Regions from separate parts of the Homo sapiens genome. Here all the other regions are linked to region 1. The links come from fine-mapping of genetic effects on gene expression. A gene starts in region 1. Each other region holds a variant in brackets. All regions are shown on one strand. Distances are between the middles of the regions.

Region 1 (8,027 bases):
CCTCCCTAGGTCCTAGTCACAGTAGTCCTCCCTGATTAACTCCGAGCTTCCACTCCTCCTCCAACTATAAAATAGGGGTAACAGTACTTCTACGAGTAGATCCATGTTTGGGGAGCCGCAGTATCTGACACAGAGACCCCACTGAGTGACAGATGAATACGTGTTAGCTATTTTAGCTATTTTTACTATTTTGTCCCTAAATAGATGTGATTTCACAAGTAGCTATTCCATCAAGCTGGTTACTTCTATAAATTCTCACTGCACCAAAATCACTTATGGGGAAGAGGGGGTTAAAAATACACTGTCCAGGCCCTATGTGGATGTGGGTCCAATTGGTCTGGGATTGGGCTGGCGTTAGAATCCTTCTTAAAGCACTCCAGTTGGTTATTACACGCAGCCGGCCTTCAGGAGCACACAGAAGTGTCTACCCGTCCACCGGGATGTACACACCACCTGTAAGGTCCGAGTTCTGAGCCGAGCAGCGCAGGCAGGTCCTCTCTCCTGGACTAGGCTCCCCGAAGCGCTGCGACGACAAACCTAGCACTGCTCGCCGAGAAGCGCCAAGCCCCTCAGCCAGCGCCGGGGCACCCGCGCGGCAGGGCTCCATCGGGGGCCACACGCCCCCTCGCGCGCCCTCCGCGGGCGCAGGCCCCTCCGGCCCGTGTCACCGCGCCCTCGCCTCCCGCGCCCCGGCCCCCTCCCGCCCACGGCACGTGACTCGACACGCGCCAGCTGCACGCGGGCTCCATCAAAACAAAAACAGAGGAGGCCGGCCGGGCGGCGGCGGGCGCGCGCGGGGGCGGCAGAGAGCGGGCGCGCCCCCGCTGCCCGGCGCCGCGACCGCGCCTCCACCGCCCCGGGCACCGCCGGCCGCGCGCCCCGGCAGGCCGGGGGCGGGAGGGCAGAGGGCACCACCCTGTTTACCGCCACGGCCCCGCCCCGCCAGCGCCCGCTCCCGGAAACGGTCTCCCGGGAGAGGGCCGGCGAGTGCGCACCCACCCGCGGCGGGGAACGCCGGCCCTGCGTGGGAGGCGCCCGGCTCCGGCGGCCCGCCGCCCCCGGCTGCTGCGTGTCACCCCCGTCACGACTCTGCTACGCACTTCGCCCCCAGCTTTCAGCTCCGGCGCTTCCGCAGACCCCTCACGTGGCTGCCGCCTCCCTGCCATGGCACTCCCCGGCGACCGGGGCTGCGGCCCCTAGCGCTGCGAGGGATCCCGAGCCTGTGCCCACCCCACCTTGGACGTCACCCTCCTCGGACCACCCAACCCACACCTTCCGCCTAGGGCGGGGCGAGGGGAGGACGGCTACGAGCTGTCAGGAGCCTCCAGCTTTCCCCGTGACGAAGCTCACCCTCGCCCTGATGTCGCCACTCACCCAGCAGCGGGCTGCGAGCTGGAGCAGACGTTAACACCGAGGGAGGACTGAAGGGAACGTCTTGATTTTTCTCCTTAATTTGCCACAGACACAGGGAAAAAAAAAAAAAAACAAAAACAGCAGACGCAGCTCTACCTTTGCGCTGGCTTTAAAGCTTTTAAGCTCCCCACGTCATCCTACCCCATGCAACAGACTTACCGAATAGCAATGCCCACCCCACACACCTGCTAGGTAACTCGCCTTCTGGAAATCGGGGGCCCCACCCACCCCGCCTTCTGGAAACCTGCGCCTGGGGTGGGGTTGAAGAGACACTGTCTGGTATCCTAAAGTCAGAGGGCGTGAGGAGACCGGCGCCCTTCGCCCCACCCAGGCGCGCTGCACCCTCCGGTCCCCGTCTCTAGAGTGCACCAAGGCATCCTGCGTCCCTGCCGGAGAAAAGAGGGACGGGGCCAGAGGCCCGAGTTCCAGGGAGTTGCTGATTCCAGTGGAGAACCGAGACACCGCGTCCTTTCTAATTAATAAGCACGCCACCCCCTACCTCCAACCCCCCCCCCCGCCCCGCCTTTATTTCTTGTTGACAGCAAAGGTGGGGGACGTGGGAGAAAGGCAAGAGTTGTCTCTAGGTTCGGGATGTTGGGCTGCGCGGAGGGAAGAGGTGGGATCTCGAAATGGAAACAGTCCCCCCTTCCTCCCCCCTCCCCTCCTCCTCCTCCTCCTCCTCTTCTTCTGTTTACCTCAAGTTTGAATTTTATCTGCGCAACATTAGCTGGAATGCGGACATTGAAAAAAAAAAAAAAACACTCTCTCAGCCCGGCAGCAGCTCCGGAGGAGCCATGTGGCATCAAGCCACAGCAAAGGGGAAAAAGTGCTCTTAGCAACACAAACATGGCGAAATCGCTCTCACAAGCCGGGTTCCCGCGACAGCCCTACCTTCCCCCGCTCGCCTTCCGAACGTCCTGGCCAGGAACCGCAGACCCCTTCCGGGGGACGGCGAGGGGGCCCCGGGCTGAGCGAGGGTGGGCGCACGGGGCGTGCTAAGGGGAAATTGACTAGCCAGCCGATCAGCTCCGCCGGCAGCGGAGGGGACGCCTTCTTCACGCCCTGAGATCGCAAAGGAGAGCAAAATTCCCATCCCAAAGTCCTGCGGGACCGGCTTCCCCACCCGACGAACTTACCCCAGGGCTGAACGCACGCTGCTTTAGCTCCTTGCCTCGTTCCTTCCTCCCGGGCGCGACGCGAGGTGAAAATGATGCGCACGTAGATTTGTAGAGCGTATTCTTGAGAATTTCCCTGGGATGAATCGGGAGGAGCGGTGGAGACTCCGGAGACAGGTGCCGCGCTGGTCTGGGCTGCCGGCTAAAAGTTGTCCTCCGCGCGGTGGGCGGTGGGGTCCCCGGCCAGGGCCAAGGACCCCGGCTCCCTGCCCCCCGGCGTCGCCCACTTGTCACGCCAGGCTGCTGCGTGCACTCGGCTGCAGGGGAGGTGGCGTAGTTTCTCTTCCTCCCACCTCTTCTCACTCACTTGTTTTTGTAGCCGTGGGCTCCCCTAATGCTTTCCTCTCCACAATGTTGTTTCATTATATCATGTCCATCATGTGACACCAGAGAGGCCTCTCTATGGAAACTTAAAGGGGCTCCCACGTGACTGCAGCAGCAACAACAGCAGCAGGACTGGCGGCGGCGGCCGCAGCGGCGTCCGTACCTCCACCCACCGGGAGCCCCTCGAAGCATCCCGGAGGGGCTTCTGGCGCTGCAGGAGCCCCGATCGGGGAGCCACAGCATCCGGGAGCCGTGGTGTCTGTGCGTGCGTGGAGCCTGTGCTCATGACATAGGAAGCCGAACAGAAGGAGCGTCCTCAAATCCTTTCCTACAGTCACCAAACCCACGCTCTGTTAAAATGACATTTCGTGGCTCCTACTTTGTTTCCCCGGAGAGCAATGAGTTTTCTATCAGGCCTGATTTAGTTTGACAAAAGTCAAAAAGAAAAACTGGATTTGTCCCTCTGCGAGTTCAGTCAGATCGCTGGGAAAACAGAAATGACAAAACAATAATAACAGAAATAGAACCAGGCATTTGATACATAATTACCATCACCACGGCTTTCAAGCTTTCTGGAATTACGTTCCTCCAGTAACTGTTGATGATGCTTGCAGGAGGCAAAATGCAATGCAGTTTTTCTCTTCCGCAGCTATATTAGGGCTTTGTTGCTGACAACAGTGAAAACTTGTTTGTGTCAGGAAGTGAGGTACGGAGATATGACCTGGAAGGTACAGACAAAACCAAAGTGGCAGTTTTTGCATTACTTTTCTGACCACATTCTTTCAAATGGTGACAAGAAGGCGGTCTGCTGTAAAATTCGTGGGGTGTTTGATGGGAAACAAAATAATCAGAAAAACATAATTATCCCTAGCCATACCATACTTGCTAGACGCTAGAAAGTATACATATATGTAATCTCTGTATACATAGAGAAAGCAAAAAGCATGTGCACTTTAATATTTTTGAACCACTAATTTTGTCATCATTTGTACCATTAACAAACACTTGGAAAGACTCACTCAAGTCCAGGGATGTGTGGAAACTCACAATGTTGAGTGCTGTGGGTATTACTGACTCACAGTCCCTTAAAGGGTTTGTACCATAAATCCCAAATTTCTGCCTTAAAGTTTTTACAGACATGGAGATTTTATCCTGTAAATCTAAGCCAGATAGCTATTTCTGGGTTTTTTAGTTCATGCTTTTCCATTTTATAAAGGAAACTGTGTGGATTGGCGGAATCAAGAAAAACTTCGCAAGAAACTGAAGAGTGGGATGGAAGATCTTTTCGTTTGGCCTTGCCTTGACTCTGTCTCTCTCCACCTCATCAGTTTACTTCATCAGCCATGATGAATGAGCTCCATTCCAACCCTTCTAATTCTATAATATCTCTCCCAAGTTTTACCTTCCTATCTCATGCCTAATTCTTTTCATCCCTTTCCTCCTACCTCCCTTGCCTCCCAACTCAGCCCCTTTTCTGCCTGGGGGCTCAGCTCGGGCCTCCCCAAAGACTGTACCCCCCACCCTCCCCTGCAGCTACCCCCACCCCCACGCCCTTCCCAGCTCGGCCTCTCTTCTTTGCAACTCTACCTCCTTACCTCTTTTGACCTCTAATCACCTTCACAGTCTGGCCCTTGACTTCTGGGCCTCTTCTTACCTCTCTTTACCTGAAATGTCCTGGCCCTCACTGGGGTCTCCTCCACACCCTTCTCTCTGGTCCCATCCCTTCTGCTGCCAAGCCCCAGCGTTCCTCCGGCTCGGCCTGGTCAGCTTGAGCCTCATTTTGTTCGCGTGCCCCTGGGCTGGGAAAGGAGTGTGTGGTGCACAGTGGGGCCAAGGATCCCCTGGGGCCGCGGCCTCTGCCTCGCCCCCTCCACCCCTCCCGAGTCCCGGTTGCGGCGCTTCCTGGGCGGATGGCTTGAAATTGCTGCAGCAGCTGCGGTTCTGCTGTGTCATGCAAGAAGGAGGCGGCGGCGGCGGCGGCGGCGGCCGGAGCTGGAGGGGGAGGAGGGGAGGAACCTGATCCTCCGGTAGCGAAGGGCTAGAGGCAAACACCGAGCTCCTCCAGAGCCGCCCGGGAGCAGGGAGGGCTCCGCTAGCCCGGGGGGCCCTCCCCGCGGGGCAGATGGTAAGTGGGGCGGTGCAGGTGGTCGCCTTGGGAAGGGAGCGCGCAGGGGGGTAAGGTGGGGCGGCGGGAAGTGCTAGAAGTCACCCCAGCCAAACTGAAGGAGCCCAGTTTCCAGCTGAGAGGGACCCAGGCCGTAATAAGGATGTCCAGCCAAACGCAGCAATAATTACTATTGGAGTGACGCCCCGAAGTTGACCCCAAGCTACACAGAGGGTGGAGTGGTGCATCCTGAACCCAGGACAGAGCTGGAGGCAATGATTCAGGGTTTGAGAAGTATCAGCCCATCGGCCTGGCGCTTTAAGGTGCAGCTGAGTAGGAAAAGCCAACCCACATCATATTCCCAGAGCCTTGCTGCGCTTTCTGGGTTGTCTTGTTCAAAACTAGTGAAAGGGATGGGAAACCTGCCCAACCTCACTTTAGCCACGAAAATAATGCTCTTGGCCAGTGGCCTTGGACAAACAGCCTCTGGTGCAACAAAACAATCAATAGGAAGAAGAACTTCATTCCCCTCACCATCCTCCTTCCCCAAGTTCCTTTGACCAGCATACCTCATTCGGCTTAAAGGAGAAAGAAAACTATGTGTGACATTCCCTCCCAGCCTACCTGCAGCCAGCCTCCTCACCACACAAACTGCCCATCCCGCTTCTCTCCTCATCTTCAGAGCCATGATTCCAAGAGACATTGCAATACTACTCACTTTAGGTGAGAAGACTGCCTGAAACTCTGAACAATTTCACCTCCCTTGCCCTTTGCCACAGGGGATTCAGAAACCTACAACTGAGAGCAGGGAAATATACGGACAGGCTTGGCACGTAGGAACATTACTTCCTTCACTGGAGTGTAGTTCTCCAGACAACTTTTTAATTATGATTATTCCCTTCCATTGCACTCCTGGAAATTTCAAAGCACTTTCTAAAACATCATTTTTTTTATGTCAGTCATACATTTAGAGGTAAGGGGTTGATGGGATTAACTGAAAGGCTAATGACTGTCTCAAAAGCACATGCTGTTGCTAGGGAACCCAAGCTCCTGCTGCTCTCTAATCACCAGCGTGTTCCGTGGAAATCAAACTGCTCAGGGTGTTATTAAAATGAATGGCATCGGGTTAAAGGCATTCTTGCTTATGTTGTAGCATCCTGGATTATTATCGATTGCCTCACACCCACATATCTTGTTTTCCTAATTTGATTTCTGTATTTGCGTCACTGCCAGGGACACTCAGACTAGACCAGTCAGTTCACTTCCTGTTTCTCAGAACTGGTTTATATTTGGTCTCGTAGCACTAGCTGGTAAAACATTATCAAACTGATCCTCTTGGAAAGAAATCTTTGCTTCCCATTGAAAACAAAATATTCCAATTAAATTGTAATTCCTGTGGAAAACGTCATCATTTGAGGAGTAGACTGCCAGTTGCCATTTGAGAAACAATCCTTGAAATGTAAAGCCTAGAAAAAAAAAACATCATCTTGATTTCTTTTACCCAGAATCTTCATTCCTCAGCACTAGAACTAAGACAAACTCGAGTAAAGAGTAGATTTAAGTATACTTCTAAAATGAAACGCATAAATAAATAAATAAATAAATAAATAAATACATGTCGAAGCTGGGGAAATCATTTAGACTAAACAAGGCATAAAATTGAATGGAATCCAGGCCCAGGAAGGACAAGTAATTTTGGGTTAGCATTGTGGCATTCGGAGAACACAGTGTGACTACAAGGCTACACTACAAATAGGAAACCCCATCACTTTGTGTACTAATTGTCTTTTTTACCAATTCCTCTATGTCCCTGGACAAGACAACCTTGTTTTGTTTTGTTTGTTTTCAGTTCCTTCCTCTTTATAACAAGGATATTGCAAAGGCAATATCAGAAAGATAAGCCCTATGTAAATAGGTGGATTCTGATGTAGATAATTTGTTTAGATGGAAAATGAAGCCCTTTGAAAAAGATGTATAATGGCATCGATAGCCTGGATGACCTTGAGTGAGCCATTGTAGGTCTTATGTCAGTTTCTTCGTGGAAGCTTAAATGAAAGTGCTGGACTAAAGGATTTCTAAGGTTCCTCCCATTTACAAACTTCTGTGATGAGATTGAACTCACTACATAAAAATTTCAATTTTAGCTGGATTTTGCAATGTTAAATTTAAGCACTGAACCTTTAATATCTATCCATAGGAACCTTGAGGGAAATGATGGGAAATGACTTTCTATTGATGTATCCATTTTTAGTGTCTGTTGACAGAAAAATAAAATTTACCTTGCTCCCCATGTACTTAGTCTCTCCCTGCCTCAGTGGTATTATGGAAGCAACAGGATAAGAGTTACAAAAGGATATAAAAGTATAGAGAAAGTTCTTTCAGTCTACTCACTTATTTATTATGACAACGTGTCACTGTGTTACCCAGGCTGGCCTCCAACTCCTGGGCTCAAGCAAGCCTCCCACCTCAGCTTCCTGAGTAGCTGGGGCTACAGGTGCACTCAACCATGCCTAGCCTTTCAGTCATTTTAGATATAGGTAATCCTAAGTACTCTGATGATCAAAGTGGTGGAATGATGGAGGAAGGGGTGTACAAAAAAATAATCAACTGAATCCTCATGGAACTAATAATAATCTATTTGCCTGTGTTTTAATTAGTGCTAGGCAAAAATAGACCTAGCTCAGCTCTTGGAATTTTTCAAATTCACAGTATTGAGAAGTAGCATGAAGAAATGTGAGATTTGTGCCAGAGAGAAAAGACCTGACTTTGAAACCCAACTCTGCCACTTTATTCATTATTGAGTGCTTGCTGTGTGTCAGGTACTGTGCTGGGTGCTGGGAATACAAAGATGAATAAGACACAGTTTCTGCTCTGAAGGACATTATAGTATCATGAGAACAAAGATGAATATACAGTTGATCACGCAACAGTGAGATGATATCAACAGGGGAGCTCATAAGAATGGTGCCTAACCCTGACCACGCATAGGGTCTCTAACCACACAAGGTGAA
Region 2 (8,027 bases), 240 kb before region 1:
GGTACACATCTGTAGTCCCAGATACTTGGGAGGCTGAGGCAGGAGAATTGCTTGAACCTGGGAGGTGGAGGTTGCAGTGACCTGAGATCACACCACTGCACTTCCAGCCTGGGCAGCAGAGCAAGACTCCATCTCAAAAAAAAAAAAAAAAAAAAAAGAAAGAAAGAACATACCTCAGTGTGATAAGGGCCACATGTGAGAATCCTACAGCTAATATTAAATGGGAAAAAATGGAAAGCCTTTGCATTAAGAACTAGAATAAGACAAGGATGCCCACTTTCACCACTTTTATTCAACATAGTACTAGCCAAAGCAATTAGTCAAGAGAAAGAAATAAAGGGCATGCAAATTGGAAAGGAAGAAGTTGACTTATCCTTGTTTGCAAACAACGCGATCTTATATTTAGAAAAACCTAAAGAGTCCACCAAAAAAACCTATTAGAAGTGACAGATTCAGCAAAGTTACAGGATATAAGATCAACATACAAAAATCAGTAAAATTTCTATATGCCAGCAGCCAACAATCTGAAAAAGAAACCAACAAAGCAATCTTACAACATCTACAAATAAAATGCCTAGGAATAAATTTAGGAGGTGGAAGACTTCTACAAGGAAAACTACAAAACATTGATTAAAGAAATTGAAGAGGATAAAAAGGGCAAGACATCCCATGCTCACTTTTCAGAAGAATTAATATTGTTAAAATGACAATACTACCCAAAGCAATCTACAGATTTGATGCAATTCCTATAAAAATACCAATGACAGTTCTTCACAGAAATAGAAAAAAAAAATCCTAAAATTTATATGAAAACACGAAAGACCCCAAATAGCCAAAGCAATCCTGAACAAAATGAACAAAGCTGGAAGCATCACATTATCTGACTTCAAATTATACTACAGGCCAGATGCAGTGGCTCATGCTTCTAGTCCCAGCACTTTGGGAGGCTGAGGTGGGTAGATTGTTTGAAGCCAGGAGTTCGAGACCAGTCTGGTCAACATGGCGAAACCCCGTCTCTACTGAAAATACAAAAATTAGCTGGGCATGGTCGCGGGTACCTGTAATCCCAGCTACTTGGGAGGCTGAGGCAGGAGAATCACTTGAACCTGGGAGGCGGAGGTTTCAGTGAGTCGAGATTGCATCACTGCACTCCAGCCTGGGCAGCAGAGAGAGACCCTGTCTCAGAAAACAAACAAATTAAACTACAGAGGTATAGTAGCCAAAAAAGCATAGTACTGGTATAAAAACAGACACATAGACCAATGGAACAGAATGAAGAACTCAGAAATAAGTCTTTGTACTTAGAGCCAACTCATTTTCAACAAAGGCACTAAGAACACATACTGGGGGGGAAAAGAGTCTCCTTAATAAATGGTGCTGGGAAAACTGTATATCTGTTTGCAGAAAAATAAAACCGGATCCCCATCTTTCATCATATACAAGTATCAACTCAAAATGAATTCAAGACTTAAATGTAAGACCTAAAACTATGAATCTGCTAGAACAAAACACTGAAGAAATGCTACAGGACATTGGTTTGGGCAAAGATTTTTTAGGGTAGGACCGCAAAAGAATAGGAAGTCAAAGCAAAAAATAGAAAAATGGGATTACATCAAGCTAAGAAGCTTCTAGACAGCAAAGGAAGGAACAAAGTGTAGAGACAGCCTTCAGAATGGAAGAACATATCTGCAAACTATCCATCTAACAATGAATTAATACATAGAATATGTAAGAAATGTAAACAATTCAATAGCAAAATAACAATCTGATTTTTTTTTAATGGGCAAAAGAGCTGGGTAAAAATTTCTCAAGACATACAAATGGCCACAGGTAGATTACAAAATGCTCAACATCACTAATCATCAGGGAAATGCAAATCAAAACCACAATGAGTTATCAACTCACTTCAGTTAGAAATCTATTATCAAAAAGAGAAAAAAATAACAAATGCTGGCAAGGATGCAGAGAAAGAGGAACCCTGGTATAGTGTTGGTGGGAATGTAAGTACAATAGCCACTATGAAAACAGTATGGAGGCTTCTCAATAAACTAAAAATAAAACTACCATATGATCCAGGAATCTCACTGCTGGGTGTATATCCAAAAGAAGTCAATATATCGAAGAGGTATCTGCACTCCAATGTTTACTGTAGAACTATTCACAATAGCCAAGATTATGGAATCAACCTGTGTCCATCAACAGATGAATGGATAAAGAAAATGTGGTATATATTCACAGTGAAATATTTTTTCACCACAAACATAATGAAATCCTGTCATTTGTAGCAACATGGATGGAACTACATGTTATTGAGCACCAATGTCACATATTTTCATTTATGTGTGTGAGTTTAAAAAGTGGATCTCATGGAAGTGGCCAGTAGTGGAGAGTAGAATGGTGTTTATCAGAGGAGAGGTACGGAGTGGGGGCAGGGGGAATGAAGAGAAGTTGGTTAATGGGTACAGAAATAAAATTAGAAGGAAGAAGTTCTAGTATTCAACAGTACAGTAAGAAAATCATAGTTAACAATAATTTATTGTATGTTTCAAAATAGCTAGAAGAACTGTAATGTTCCCAACACAAAAAGGTAAGTATTTAAGATGACACATATCCCAATTAACCTGATTTGATCATTACACATTGTATACATATATCAAAATATCACACATACCCCAAAAATATGTACAACTATGATACATAAATTAAAAATACAAAAAAAAAAAGGAGGGGGCAGGCATGGTGGCTTATGCCTGTAATCCCAGCACTTTGGGAGGCCAAGGCAGGGTGATTGCTTGAGCCCAGGAGTTGAGACCAGCCTGGGCAACATAGTAAGACTCCATCTCTACAAAAGTTTTAAAAAATAATTATCCAGGTGTGGTGGTGCACACCTGTAGTCCTGACTACTTGGGAGACTGAGGTGGGAGGATCATCTGAGGCTGGGAGGTCAAGGCTGCAGTGAGTCGTGGTTGCACCGCTGTACTCCAATCTGGGTGCCAGAGCAAGACTCTGTCTCTAAAAAAAAATCACCAAAAAAGAAGACATAACTTACTGCCAAAGTGAGAAAGACAATGGGATAAATTCAGATTGAGACCTATGGTTCCTAGTTCAGGCAACACTTGAAGACAGAAGGGGCCTGTCATAACATGGAGTTGGGAGTTGGTTTTTTTCCTCTGGCTAACCTAAGCATTGGCTTAGAGGTTATCAGAGTGGGGGAAGACAGAGAATACTTCTCTGAAAGACTCCCTTTGTTTTCCTCCTACAGAGAGGGTTTCCTTCAGGTTCACATTTGTTATGTCATTGGCTCTGACCATGGTGCTGAATCCTCTGAACTTGAAAATTGAACTCCTACAAAGGTAGTAGATTCAAACTCTTAGTTGTGAGATGTGCTAGAAGTGATATGGGGAAGTGCAGCACCCCCACCCCCCTTCTGTACTTCTACCAACCTTATCTGCTCCCTTGAGCTCCTTTTGAGGTATAAAATATAGCGGAAATTTCTGGCTAAAATTTATAGATTCGGATGCTCCCATTTCCTGAACGCCATCTACATAGGAGTAGTTCTTTGAATTGTCAGAAAACAACCTGGCCCCAAAGTAAACTCAAGGCAGGCCAAGCACAATATTTTTGCCATTTATGGCGAATGATAAGAGGTATGTCACAGTTCCTAAGACAACCACAAGGGCTTCTGCTCAGTGTGGGTTTTGCTGACTTCAC[T/C]GGAGTCAGCAGCAGTGGGCTGCTTCATTGCTGACATTCAGCAAATGTGGGTTTATATAAAGCTCTGTCATAGGCTGATCCTCCATAATCCCACAGAATCTGCAGGGAATAGTACTTTCCATGCTAATGTGATTGAACACAGAGAGTACCTATATTATGCTAGGCATATGCTAGGAATATGGACCCTGAATCAAGAAGTTTACAGTCTATTTGGTGAGAAAAACGTGCATGTGGGTGATGCAAAGTAGAATGTACTATGTGTGTTACCAGAGATCCCATGTGTTAGACCAATAGTGACAGGACAGTGGTCTGTTCTGATCTGGAACCTGACCAGAGGCAGTCCTTAGAGTACTGAGCTCTGAGCTCGACCTTCCCCTCACCTTTCATTTCAAGTTAGGGGTGGACATATCTGAGTTGGTGGAGTCTGGTCAGCTACAAACCTGTTTTTAGAGATGAATTCTGTGCTATGAGACTCTGGTCACGAATCATGGAACTTCTGCTTTCTGAGAGCTTGTGTGGATTGTTTATTCTTCCAAGGACTGTTAACCAGTGAGAAGATAGTTAAGACAGGCTGGGGCAGACAGTGTTTAATCTGCTTCAGAGACACAAACTGCAGCTCCATCCCACCAGCATCTGCCAACACAAGGCAGAGAGATTAGTGTGTGGACGTGGCACAAACAAAGAAAGGGATGCACAGGGATTGGTTTAGGAGGGAGAAGCCACAGGATGAGCCTTTCCTCTAGGGGACCTGGGAGAGGGTCGAGCAACAGGAGTGGAGGGTCTTGCCTCTCATTCAACATCAAGAGTCCTGCATACCTCCTGGGATCCCTTTCTCAGAACTTAAGGACTTAAGAGAGAAGGTGTGGTATGTTGAGCCAGACATTAACTTTGTCTAGGAGAACAGCATGGGTTTTTAGCAGCATGGAAGGGTGGCACTTGCGATCAGTTTAGCTGCTTAAGCCAGTATCCTGAGCTGAGAAAGGCCTGAGGAGCAGAGTTCTGGGCACAGTACAGGAAAACCCCTCTCAGTGCCTAGAGAGTACCTGGAGCAGGGTAGGTGCTAAATAAATTTTTACTGAACTGAATTCTTGCTGAGCTACTAAAGGAGAGGTGAACAGCTGCTTCTAAGGGCTGATACTATGCTCCAGAAAGCAGAGGAATGTGTCACATGTCTGGTCTTTTGGACTCACAGCAGACCTCACATTCTATAGCACTGAGGGGCTCCTGCTGCTGGGACAGAGACATGAGCTCAGGATCAGCTCTCCCAGGGACCCAGAACGCAGCCCATCTTCACCAGCCATAGCACCTTCAGATAAAAAAGGCCAACACATATGTCCACAAGTCCTCTTTTTCTCTGTCACTTTCACTTCCCAGACATTTCGAGGTACTGCTATTGACCTTCGCTTCTATATTGGGAAAATGGGGCTAGTGGGTTTTTTTTTTCCATGCCCATCAGGACCCTTCCAAGGCCATTTCAAAGTAATTCGCAGGTAAGGTACCCACAAGAATCTCTTATCTGTTGCCTCTTTTCCTTTGGAACTCAGTTCATAATTTACATTTGTGCCAGCCTCTTTCCCATCCAAGTTTCTAATTTTTTGTTTTTTGACATAGAAAGCTGGTAAGTGAGCTGGATTAGAACAGGAGTCCATGTACAATCCACACTTTGTGCCTTTGTCCTTGTTCTCTTGCCTGCCTTTGACCTTCCTCTCTGGCCTGTTCAGTCACAGGAAGGAAGAGAGAGGCAGCTATCTGCAAGAGCAAAAATGCCTCTTACAAAAGCATACCCAACGGCTGTCCTTTTTTCCAAGACCAGTTCTGACAGCTAAGAAGGCTGACACCCAGCTGGCATCCTCTGGTACCTTTGTCCTGTCACCTCCTGCCACACCAAGCCTCTGGCACAGTATTGGTTACCAACTTCTGTCAGGCCTGCACCATCTTCTGCCCAACCCACAGTGGGTGGCATCCAGCATGTTCAGGGTTGATACAGATTGGTTCAGGGCCATAATTTTGTGGACTTTTTTTTTCATGAATGCAGAATTTATAGGTGATAGAAGCACCACTATGTTTCTATCCTCCTCCTCTTTGACTTCCTCCTGTGACTTTTGGTGAACAAGGTCCTCATCCACCTACAGACCCCTTTCATCTCCAGGAGGAAGGGCTGTGTGCCTCCTGCCCTTCGTCTCCACTCTGGCTGTAGAAAGTGCTAATCCTGAGACAGCAAGTCTGCACAGTTTGGCCCAAAGCTTCCTGGCCGCACCCACATACCAGGGCAGTGCCAGCTTGCTCCCTTCTAAGGCAGCATCTATTGTTTCCGTACAGTGGGCAGGGTTGGCCATTCGGTGCAAGGCCACCTGAGTGGAAAACGCCTCTTCAAAACAGGGTGGCTTCAAAACAGTTGACTACACTTTGTTCTTTGGCCCCTGAAGAGGAGAGAGAGAGTAAATGAGAGGTGTGGAGCTTCGCTAGAAGCAGACTATGGGAATTTAAAATCGATGCCAAAAATCCTTCCGTCAGCTTATTAACAAAACACAATTTCTATGGGGTTCCAAGCTCCATTCTTGGAAAAAAATCAAAGCCCACTGCAATGGGTGGCCATTATACCCAGAAGGAATGGAGGAGAGGAAACACTAGAGCTTCTTCCCATCCTCACTGACCAAGGAAAGCTGTTCTTCCTTCTGATGCCTCTGTTTTAACAGCTGTAGAATGGAGGTAAATACTAAAAATACAAAAAACTAGCTGGGCATGGTGGTGCACACCTGTAGTCCCACCCACTTGGGAGGCTGTGGTGAGAGGATCACCTGAGCCTGGGAAGTCGAGGCTGGAGTGAGCTGTGATCACACCACTGCACTCCAGCCTGGGCGATGGGAGTGAGGTGAGACCCTGTCAAAAAAAAAAAAAAAAAAGAAAAAGAAAAAAAAAAAGGTATATTAAATGAAAAAGACCTCTATTATGGCACAAACTCAGGAAATTTAAAGGACACAAAGGATAAACAGAATCTCCTCAAAACTTCCAGAGCAAAAGGGCCAGAAATCAGCATTGTATCAGACCTCTTCACAGCACTGGGGGCTAGAAAACCAAAATCTGAGCCAGTCAGGAATTCCATAACCAGTGAAATGATCAATAAAATATGGGCAAAATGAAAAACCTAAAAAAAAATGACCTTTGTCAGGAAACTGCTGAAGGATGTGTGCGTGTGCGCGCGCGCACACACACACACACTGACTGTGTGTGCGCACACACACTGACTGTGTGTGCGCACACACACACTGACTGTGTGTGGGGTCTGAAAATGCTGAGGGGAATGTTACAGTTCTGTAAGGTTTAGGAATTAAGTATATCATGAATTAAATTTAAAATGATGAAATTATTCATCTCAGAGTTTATAAGAAGTTTTAAAAGGAAATCTAAAACTATGTAGTTATGATATCAACAGTATCTATATAATTATCAATACCATTCTTGAGTTAACCGAAAACTGTGTTCTAACTAAATTGTGAAGGCGAATGGAGTAATATGTGTACAGGTGGCAGTGGAGTTAAAGCTAAATTCTCATTTCCCATAGTAGAAAAATTAAAAAAATTAAAAAAATAAAGTCAAAATGAAGACATAGAGGTATGAGCATTTTAAAATGGAAGTAACAGTCTATAGAATCTCTTATCAGAAGAAACAGATAAATGATTTGAAAGCAGCTGCCTGCGAGAGAAAACAGTAGGACAGAGAACAGCTGTTTGTTTGCTCTGGGACTCAGTGCCCTCTTACTTGTTTATGGATATATATTACACTGACAGAAATAAAAGTTTAAATTTAAAGAACGAGACAGCTCAAATGCCAGTACGAACCTGTGAGTGGATAAACAAAATGTTGTCTATCCAAATAATGGAATATTATTCAGTCATAAAAAGGAATGAAGTACTGATACACACTACAACGTGGATGAATCTTGAAAACATCATGCTAAGTGAAAGAAGCCAGTCAGAAAAGGCTGCGTACCTTTTATCATGCATCATCCCTGTTGTATGTATGTATCATGTATCATACCTATTGTATGATTCCGTTTACATGAAATGTCCAGACTATGTAAGTCTGTAGAAAGCAGATTTTGCCAGGAGCTGGGAGGAGGAATGAATGAAGAATGTCTACTTAATGGGTACAGGTTTCTTCTTGGGGTGATTAAAATGTTGTGGAGTTAGAGAGTGGTGATGGTCACACAACACTGTGAACATACTAAGGCCACTGAATTGTATGCTTTAAAATGGTTAAAATGGTAAAAACGGTAAGTTTTATGTTATGTGAATTTTTAACCTCAATAATAAAGG
Region 3 (8,027 bases), 150 kb before region 1:
AACGTGACCGATTCAGCCAAATGGGGAGTCTATTATGAAGAGTGAGACAGCTGAATCACAGCAGAGTGGAATGCACTTTTGCTTTATATGTTTTTCCTTTACTCATTCCTTTTTTGGTGTTCCTTTATTATAAAGTTAATATATTATTACCAGCCAGCAGTTACATAGTGCTCACTATGAACCAGGCACAGCTCTAAGCCTTTTGTATACTTTAACCCAAACCATGAGGCACGTACTCTTATTCTCCCCATTTAGGGAGAGAGACAAGAACGTCGATTCCTTCGCCGGTGTTCAGTGGCAGAGCTGGTATTCCAATCCAGGCAGCCCAGCCTCAGAGTCCCGCGCTAATCACTTCCCTATACCACCACACCATGAAAGCACCAAATTCAAAGTCCTAAAATTTAGGGTATCAAAAGAGAGCATCACCATTTACTGTACCTTTCTAACAGAATAATTTGGGTGCATTTCCTACTCTATTCAGCCTTTGGTTTCCAAATCAAGGAATCTTTTAAAAGAAAGAAAGTTCTATATTCAAATAAATATGCTCAACCAAACCGTTTACAAAAACCTTTCCAAGTAGAGATTCTACTCATAGACAAGGCTTCTTTAAAATCAGATCTACTTTTGCATACAATATACTTGTTATTAAAACAATTTTTTCCTTTACAAGCATCTTTACATTATGAAAAACATCTTTCTTAAGAGTATTTATTTTTTGTCTGGCCCACATTTCATTATAATAAGTTCCAAATCACTCATTTTTGAATCCACACATATCCAAGTTTTCAGATAAGAAAAGTGAAGTTAATTTTGTTCTTCTTGAAGTCGCCTGCAGGCTCAGGCTAGATCTCACTTTTTATGGTCTATTTCTGTGCAGATAAGAACATCACATTTAACATGGGAATGTTGGAACTTCTGGAGGCTTCAGCAGGGTTAGCTTCAAAAAACAAGCAAAAAATGCCTCCCACCACATACAGCTTCTATCAGTGATCTTTGACATAAATGTTTCACGATATAGAAGTTAAAGAGTATGCCAGTCACTTGAGGGTTGACCAATGTGAACTGTTATTTCCTAGACTTGAGTACATGCCGCATGTGGTCTATATAAACATTCTTTAAGTTCCTTTGAAATAGACCCACACATATATGGAAAACTGATTTTCAAGAAAGGCGCCAAAGCAATTCAATGGAAAAAGGAAAGTCTTTCCAACAATCCATGTTAGAACAACTGGGAAAATGTATGCAAAAATATGAACCTTGACTTCTACTTAACCCCATATATAAAAATCAACTGGAGATAGATCATAAACTAAAGCATAAAAGCTAAAGCTATAAGTCTTCTAACAGAAGGCACAGAGAAATATCTGCACAATCCTGGGGAGGCAGATTACTTAGGAAACAAAAAATACAGATAATATAGAAATCTTTGTTTTAATTTTTAAAAATATATTTTATTTTTTTGTAGAGAGTTGAGGTCTTGCTATGTTACCTAAGCTGCTCTCAAACTCCTGGGCTCAAGCGATCTTCCCCTGCCTTGGCCTCGCAAAGGAAAAACATTTTTGATCAATGAAATTATTTCAAAGTTAAAACCTTCTGCTCATCAAAAGACACTTTTAAAAAACAGCAGGTAGACCATAGACTGGCAAAATATTTGCATTATAAACTTCTGACAAGAATATTTTATTCAGAATATGTATAACATTCCTACCAACCAAAATAATAAGACAATCCAATTTTAAAACAGGCAAAAGAAAAACAGACTCAAACGACTTGAACAGACACTTCAAAAGGGAAGATACACAAATGGCCAATAAGTATATGTGATTCATCTAGAAAATGCAAATTGAAAACTACAATGAGATACTACTTCATATCCAAGAGAACGACTATAAGTAGAAAAACCAGCAATATACAATGTTAAGATACCTGGTCACCTGGAACTTTCATAAATTGCTTGTTGGAGTGTAAAATGGTACGATTACTTTGGAAAATGACTTGGCAGTTTCTTACAGAGGTACACATACACCTAGTGTACGGTGCAGCAATTAAACCTAAAAAAGAGTGAGAGTGGGCCAGGTGTGGTGGCTCACGCCTGTAATCCCAGCACTTTGAGAGGCCGAGGCTGGTGGATCATTTGAGGTCAGGAGTTTGAGACTAGCCTGGCCAACATGGTGAAAGCCCATCTCTACTAAAATTTTAAAAATTAGCCAGGTGTGGTGGTGCGTGCCTGTAGTCCCAGCTACTCAGAAGGCTGAGGCAGGAGAATCGCTTAAGCCTGGGAGGTAGAGGTTGCAGTGAGCTGAGATTGCCCCACTGCAGCTCAGCCTGGGTGACACAGTGGGACTGTCTCAAAATAAAAAATAAAAAAAGAAAGAAAAGAAAAAGAGTGAGAGTGAGAGAAAACTCATTCACAGCAGCTTAATATTCATAGTAGCCAAAAATGGGGAAATAATCAATATGTCAGTCAACAAGAGAACAGAGTTTAAAATTGGGTCTATTCATACAATGGAATACCACCCAGCAATAAAGGAAGAATGATACAGACAACTATATAAAACTGTTGCGTGAAAAAAAAAGCCAGACGCAAAAGAGTATATACTGCATGATTCCATTTAGAGGAAGCTCAAGAACAAGACTGCAATGATAGAAAGCAGAAAGTTTTTGCCAGTGAGGGTGGCGAATGACTGAATGGGGCAAGAGGAAACCTGGTGATAGAAACGTTCTCTCTCTTAACTGGGGTCTGGGAACAGGAGTACACTGAATGTCTGTGCATTTCAATGCATGTAAATTTTACATCAATTAAAATGGAGGGATGGTAGGATTTCCTTAATTGTCTTGACATCCCCATGTCCTCCTGAAGAATGCAATTTGATTCGCACACTTAGATCCCATCAAATGGTGCCTGTATCTGGATTACTTCAGTTCACAACTAGCCATGGCTCTCTCTTCTCTGGGGGACCATCCATACAAGGTATTTCCTCCAGAGGAAAAGAAAGAATTTGCTGGTTCTCCTCTCATTCAACAGTAATAGCCAACCAATAGGCCAGGTCCCAGAACCAGTGTGGGAGTGTTCTACATTCTTGCAGTCACAGAATGTTTTTTTTAGGCCCACCATTTTTCAGCAGACATCTGACAATCCACACTCAGAAACATTCTTCATCTCTAGGAAGTTATGCGAAATAGGTGGGAGAAACAAGGTGTGGAAAGGGGGTGTTTGGCATAGGCTGATGATAGATGTTCTGGTCAATACCAGGAATAAAATCCCAAGTGTGTTCTGCTTGCCTGGGAGCTCACACCCTCAGAGCTAAGTAGATTTCACTACTCTCCATCTCTGCTTCCAAGGGCATGGCCTCAGAGGACTTGCTCTTTGATCTAGAACTGTACAGGAGGCTCTAAGCTGGTAAACAACTTACAGGGGTACAGAGGTCAGATAGGAGAAGGCCCTTATGACCCTTACTATCTTCAACTGTCTCTAAGCAGCTACATTAAAAATAGCTAACATCCATCACTATTACTTTGCAAATTTTAGAGATAGATTTTAGCCTCCTAGTATTGTGCTAGAAATGAGGCTAGGCCTGAGAAGAACCTAAAGCTTCCATCATGTTGCAGTAATTGGCCCTAACTGTGGAATACCTCTGAGAAAGATCTCCAGGGATTTTTCACAAAGAAACTGCTTTCTAAGTAAAAGGAGGGAAGCATGAGATGGAAACATCAATTCAGGCTTTCTTCTGACACAAACGGACACCACTTGTGTCACAAAAGTTAAAGAACTAGTCAACATCTTACTTTTCCCATCTTCACAGTGTCTGCTGACACTTTCAGGACCGACCTGACGAACATGACAAAGGGATAATTAACAAGGGTTTGGAGATTTTTTCCACAAAGGAGATGGGAAAAGAGAATGTGAATTGCTTCTTATAAGGAAAAGAAGAGGGAGTATGAGGGTCTATAGCCCAAGAAATAAATAGTACAGAAGGGAAGAATAGGAAATTCTCTCAGAAGCTCTTATGCTAAAGGGCAGGGAAGAAATCAAGCAAGCGTATCCACATTTAATTTGTATTAAGATCAGGAACAAGTACCACTACTTAAAGATTTTTTTAAATGACTAAGTTGGATGTTTTACAAGATGCAACTTTCTTCTAGCAACAAAGCTAAAAGATCCTCTTATGGGGCTCTATGATTAATGGCTATGTCTTTACTGGCTGGAAAGTGTATCTTTGTATAATAGTGTCAGCCCACTGTTTCCTCCCAATCCAGTAATTGTGAGGGTTTGTTTTCCCAAGCCCCAGTACCCACTGCAGTCATCATGCTCCATCTAATCTTTTTCCTGGCTAAATGCCTGACTAAAGGTATTTCCAATTTACTTGTTCAGATATATTTCTGACAAATCAACAAATGAAAGTACTTCTCCTTTCATGATGGCGGTCAGGGC[G/A]CCTGGAAGACCCCACTACGGTTATAAAAGGGGTATGTAGACCCACAACAACAACAAGTTTCAGGGGCCTGAGAGATTTCACCAAATGTCAGGAAGCCAGAAGGATGTGGGGAGAGCACTGAGCGATGAAGCTGAGCAGAGGCAGCTTACAGCCCGGAGAGTTCTGAGCGGGTACTGCCAAGGCAGTGAAGAGTTGATTTTATTCAGATGGACCCCAAACAGGCTCCAGACTCAGGAAAAGTAAGAACTGTGACAGAAGTGACAAGAAAGGTAGAAAGGAGAAGAGTAATTGAAAAGTCTGGAAATAACAATTATTCTTTTCATGACTACTTCCTGTCTTTATAAAAAAAAACCTTATAGCTTCCCCACTTCAGAGCAAAAATAAGAAAAGGGAGATAATTTTCTAAAAAAAATTAAACAAACGTCTGGTGAAGACTAAATAGCTAGTGTGGTTAAGAGAACCCCACAGTCAAGCCCTCCTCATTCTGACATCTAGCAGTTCCCCAGCAAGAGGGCTCAGGGTGGCTCTGTGTACCCAGGCTGAAGCCTGCTAGAGGCAGATGCTGTCATGCAGAACTTCTAGGCAGCCGTAATGGCACTTCATTTTTAAAAAGAAAATCAAATATATATTTTAAAAGTCTGCAACATGAAAGAGAAAAACCAAGATAAACAACAATAACAAAAAAGAAACAGAATATTTAAGAAAAAGATTTTTTTCTAAAAAAACTAAAAAAAAACCCCCAATTTATTAGTATTCCTGGAAATATTTGAGAATTACATCAACATAACAACAACAACAACAACAAAAAAGAACTACAAGAAAAAGCTCTATGAAATTAAAAATGCAAGCCTCAAATAACAATAGGGAACACTATGTGTGCACATGCTTGAGTAACTTAACCTCACACTTGTACTTCTTTTTTCCTTTTTTTCTTTTCTTTTTTTTTTCCTGAGACACAGTCTCATTCTGTCGCCCAGGCTGGAGTGCAGTAGCGTGATCTCAGCTCACTGCAACCTCTGCCTCCCAGGTTCAAGCAATTTTCCTTTCTCAGTCTCCCAAGTAGCTGGGATTACAGGTGTGCACCACCACGTGCAGCTAACTTTTGTATTTTTAGTAGGAATGGGTTTTTGCCATGTTGGCCAGGCTGGTCTCAAACTCCTGACCTCAAGTGCTCCACCCACCTCAGACTCCCAAAGTGTTGGGATTACAGGCGTGAAACACCACACCCAGCCTTTGTATTTCTGATTTAATCTACCATATAGACAATACCTTACCTAGAATGTGTTATATTTTACAGTACTGTCAACAGTTTGTAATGGCATATGTGGACTATGTTCATGACAAAGGGACAGTGCCACCATGTCCACTGTTCAAGAAAACCTGAGTCTGTTTTTAACTCCTCTGCAAGTTTACAGTTTACTTCTCTCAATACCTGCTCATCTTTTCTACAGAAGGGGAGTAACCAAAAGTCACAGGTTTTTTTTGTTTTCGTTTTGTTTTTTTGAGACAGAGTATCACTCTGTCACCCAGGCTGGAGTGCAGTGGTACAATCTCGGCTCACTGAAACCTCTGTCTCCCAGGTTCATGCAATTCTCCTGCCTCAGCCTCCTGAGTAGCTGGGATTACAGGAGTGTGCCATCACACACGGCTGATTTTTATATTTTTAGTAGAGACAAGGTTTTACTATGTTGGCCAGGCTGGTCTTGAACTCCTGACTTCAGGTGATCCGCCCACCATGGCCTCCCAAAATGCTGGGATTACAGGCATGAGCCACTGTGCCTGGCCATGTTTTGTTTTGAGACAGAGTCTTGCTCTATCGCCTAGGCTGTAGTGCAATGGCACGATCTCAGCTCACTACAACCTCTGCCTCCCGGGTTCAGGTGATTCTCCCGCCTCAGCCTCCCGAGCAGCTGGGATTACAGGTACCTGCCACCATGCCCAGCTAATTTTTGTATTTTTAGTAGAAACGGGGTTTCACCATGTTGGCCAGGCTGGTCTTGAACTCCTGACCTCAGTGATCCACCTGCCTCGGCCTCCCAAAGTTCTCGGATTACAGGCATGAGCCACTGCACCTGGCCCGGTCATGTTTTTAGAGTGACATATGAAGACTCCTAGAAAATATTAATACAGAAGAACTAGCTTACTATGAAGATTTCAAAATACTAATACAAATTAATGAGGTACACGTGAAATCTTCCCTGGGGAACTTCATGAAGAAGATAAGCATCCCTCCTATCTGGGTAATTTGCATACCCTCCTTCCTTAAACGCTGAGGCACGGATTGGTTCATTGGTTCAAAACCCTATCCATTATTCTCATAGCTCTCTTTATATGACAAAAAAATTCTGTCATGTCCCATTTACTACTCTAAAATCAAATTTGTTGATAATATTAACTACTGTACATGCAGCTTTAAAACATGAATATCCTAAATGTACATAAAAGATAATCTAAAAGAAGCAATTTATAATAAAAAATACTTCACATTTCATTATATAAATAATTTTCAGGTACAATTAACTATGTAATCAAATAGATGCTTGTAACTTACTTATAAAGAAGAAGCTTGTATTTAAGAGAAGTCAGATTAGAAGCTTTCCATATTAAAAGTGCAGGAAAATGAAAGAAGTAGTATAGGTGGACCAGAGAATGAAAATGAATCTATTCTGTGTATATTAAAAGTATGCAAAAATTATTTTGCATTTTTATGAAAAAATAAAGTCTAGGTTCAGAAAATTATAAACTGATCTTTCCCTACACGAATGTCCAACAGGATAACTGAAAGTCATGTGTACTACAGGGCAATTCTTTATCTCTTTTCTACTGTGGGACATTAAGTTCTCTCGCTCTCACTCATGAAATATCCTTCATTAGGCTGGGCGAGGTGGCTCATGCCTGTAATCCCAGCACTTTGGGAGGCCGAGGCCGGCGGATCACCTGAGGTCAGGAGTTTGAGACCAGCCTGACCAACATGGGGAAGCCCCGTCTCTACCAAAAATACAAAAATTAGCTGGGTGTGGTGGCTTGGGCCTGTAATCCCAGCTACTCACGTGGCTGCAGCAGGAGAGTTGCTTGAACCCAGGATACGGAGGTTGCAGTCAGTTGAGATCACACCACTGCATTCCAGTCTGGGCAACAGAGTGAGACTCCATCTCAAAAAAAAACCAGAAAAATCCTTCATTGTACCACCAGAATACCCTCATAAATTTCCACTCTGTCACCTAGGGGGCGGTACTGCTTCCATGAGAACTCCTGACCAGATCATCTATGGGAGTTTCCTTTTAGTCTTCATCGTCCGTCGCACTGAGAATCAAATCCTGATGGACAAATCAGCAACATAGCTAGGAAGCACAGTAACTTAATATAAAAAAAGACTATGAAGAAATTAATTTAGTTTAGGCTTATGCCATTAACTGTAGCCATATTCAACATAATTTCCTCTTTTTGAGTTCAGGATGATTGGTTACTCCACATAGAACATGGAGTGGAAAGCTGTATCTTTGTGACTTTTATTTAGATAGCACAAAATGAGCCTGATTTTTAAAATGTGAACATTCAAACCTGGCTAACTAATGATAAAAAAGGGAGTTTTTC

The links. PIP is the estimated chance that this variant, and not a neighbour inherited with it, causes the effect.
Region 2: its variant is fine-mapped to the expression of LINC-PINT in whole blood (TOPMed, PIP 0.99).
Region 3: its variant is fine-mapped to the expression of LINC-PINT in whole blood (TOPMed, PIP above 0.99). The same link has a PIP of 0.9 or more in tibial nerve.

Annotation. Positions count from the first base shown.
Region 1 is chr7:131,105,171-131,113,197 of GRCh38, forward strand. LINC-PINT (long intergenic non-protein coding RNA, p53 induced transcript) reads right to left here and starts at 4,755. Exons shown (of 8, transcript NR_170176.1): 1 at 4,567-4,755; 2 at 2,550-3,633. It also overlaps a transcript of MKLN1 not described here. RefSeq lists silencers at 2,644-2,693, 2,714-2,773, 4,831-4,880, 4,961-5,110, 6,261-6,320 and 2 more and enhancers at 2,756-3,607, 6,002-6,543.
Region 2 is chr7:130,862,342-130,870,368 of GRCh38, forward strand. No RefSeq gene overlaps it. Among named protein-coding and RNA genes, the nearest start is that of MIR29A, 10 kb to the right of the region's middle. The variant T/C (reference allele first, on the strand shown) is at 3,712.
Region 3 is chr7:130,952,386-130,960,412 of GRCh38, forward strand. The region is part of intron 5 of LINC-PINT (long intergenic non-protein coding RNA, p53 induced transcript); the gene reads right to left. Among named protein-coding and RNA genes, the nearest start is that of LINC00513, 43 kb to the left of the region's middle. RefSeq lists a silencer at 4,883-4,932 and enhancers at 5,734-5,793, 7,612-8,027. The variant G/A (reference allele first, on the strand shown) is at 4,433.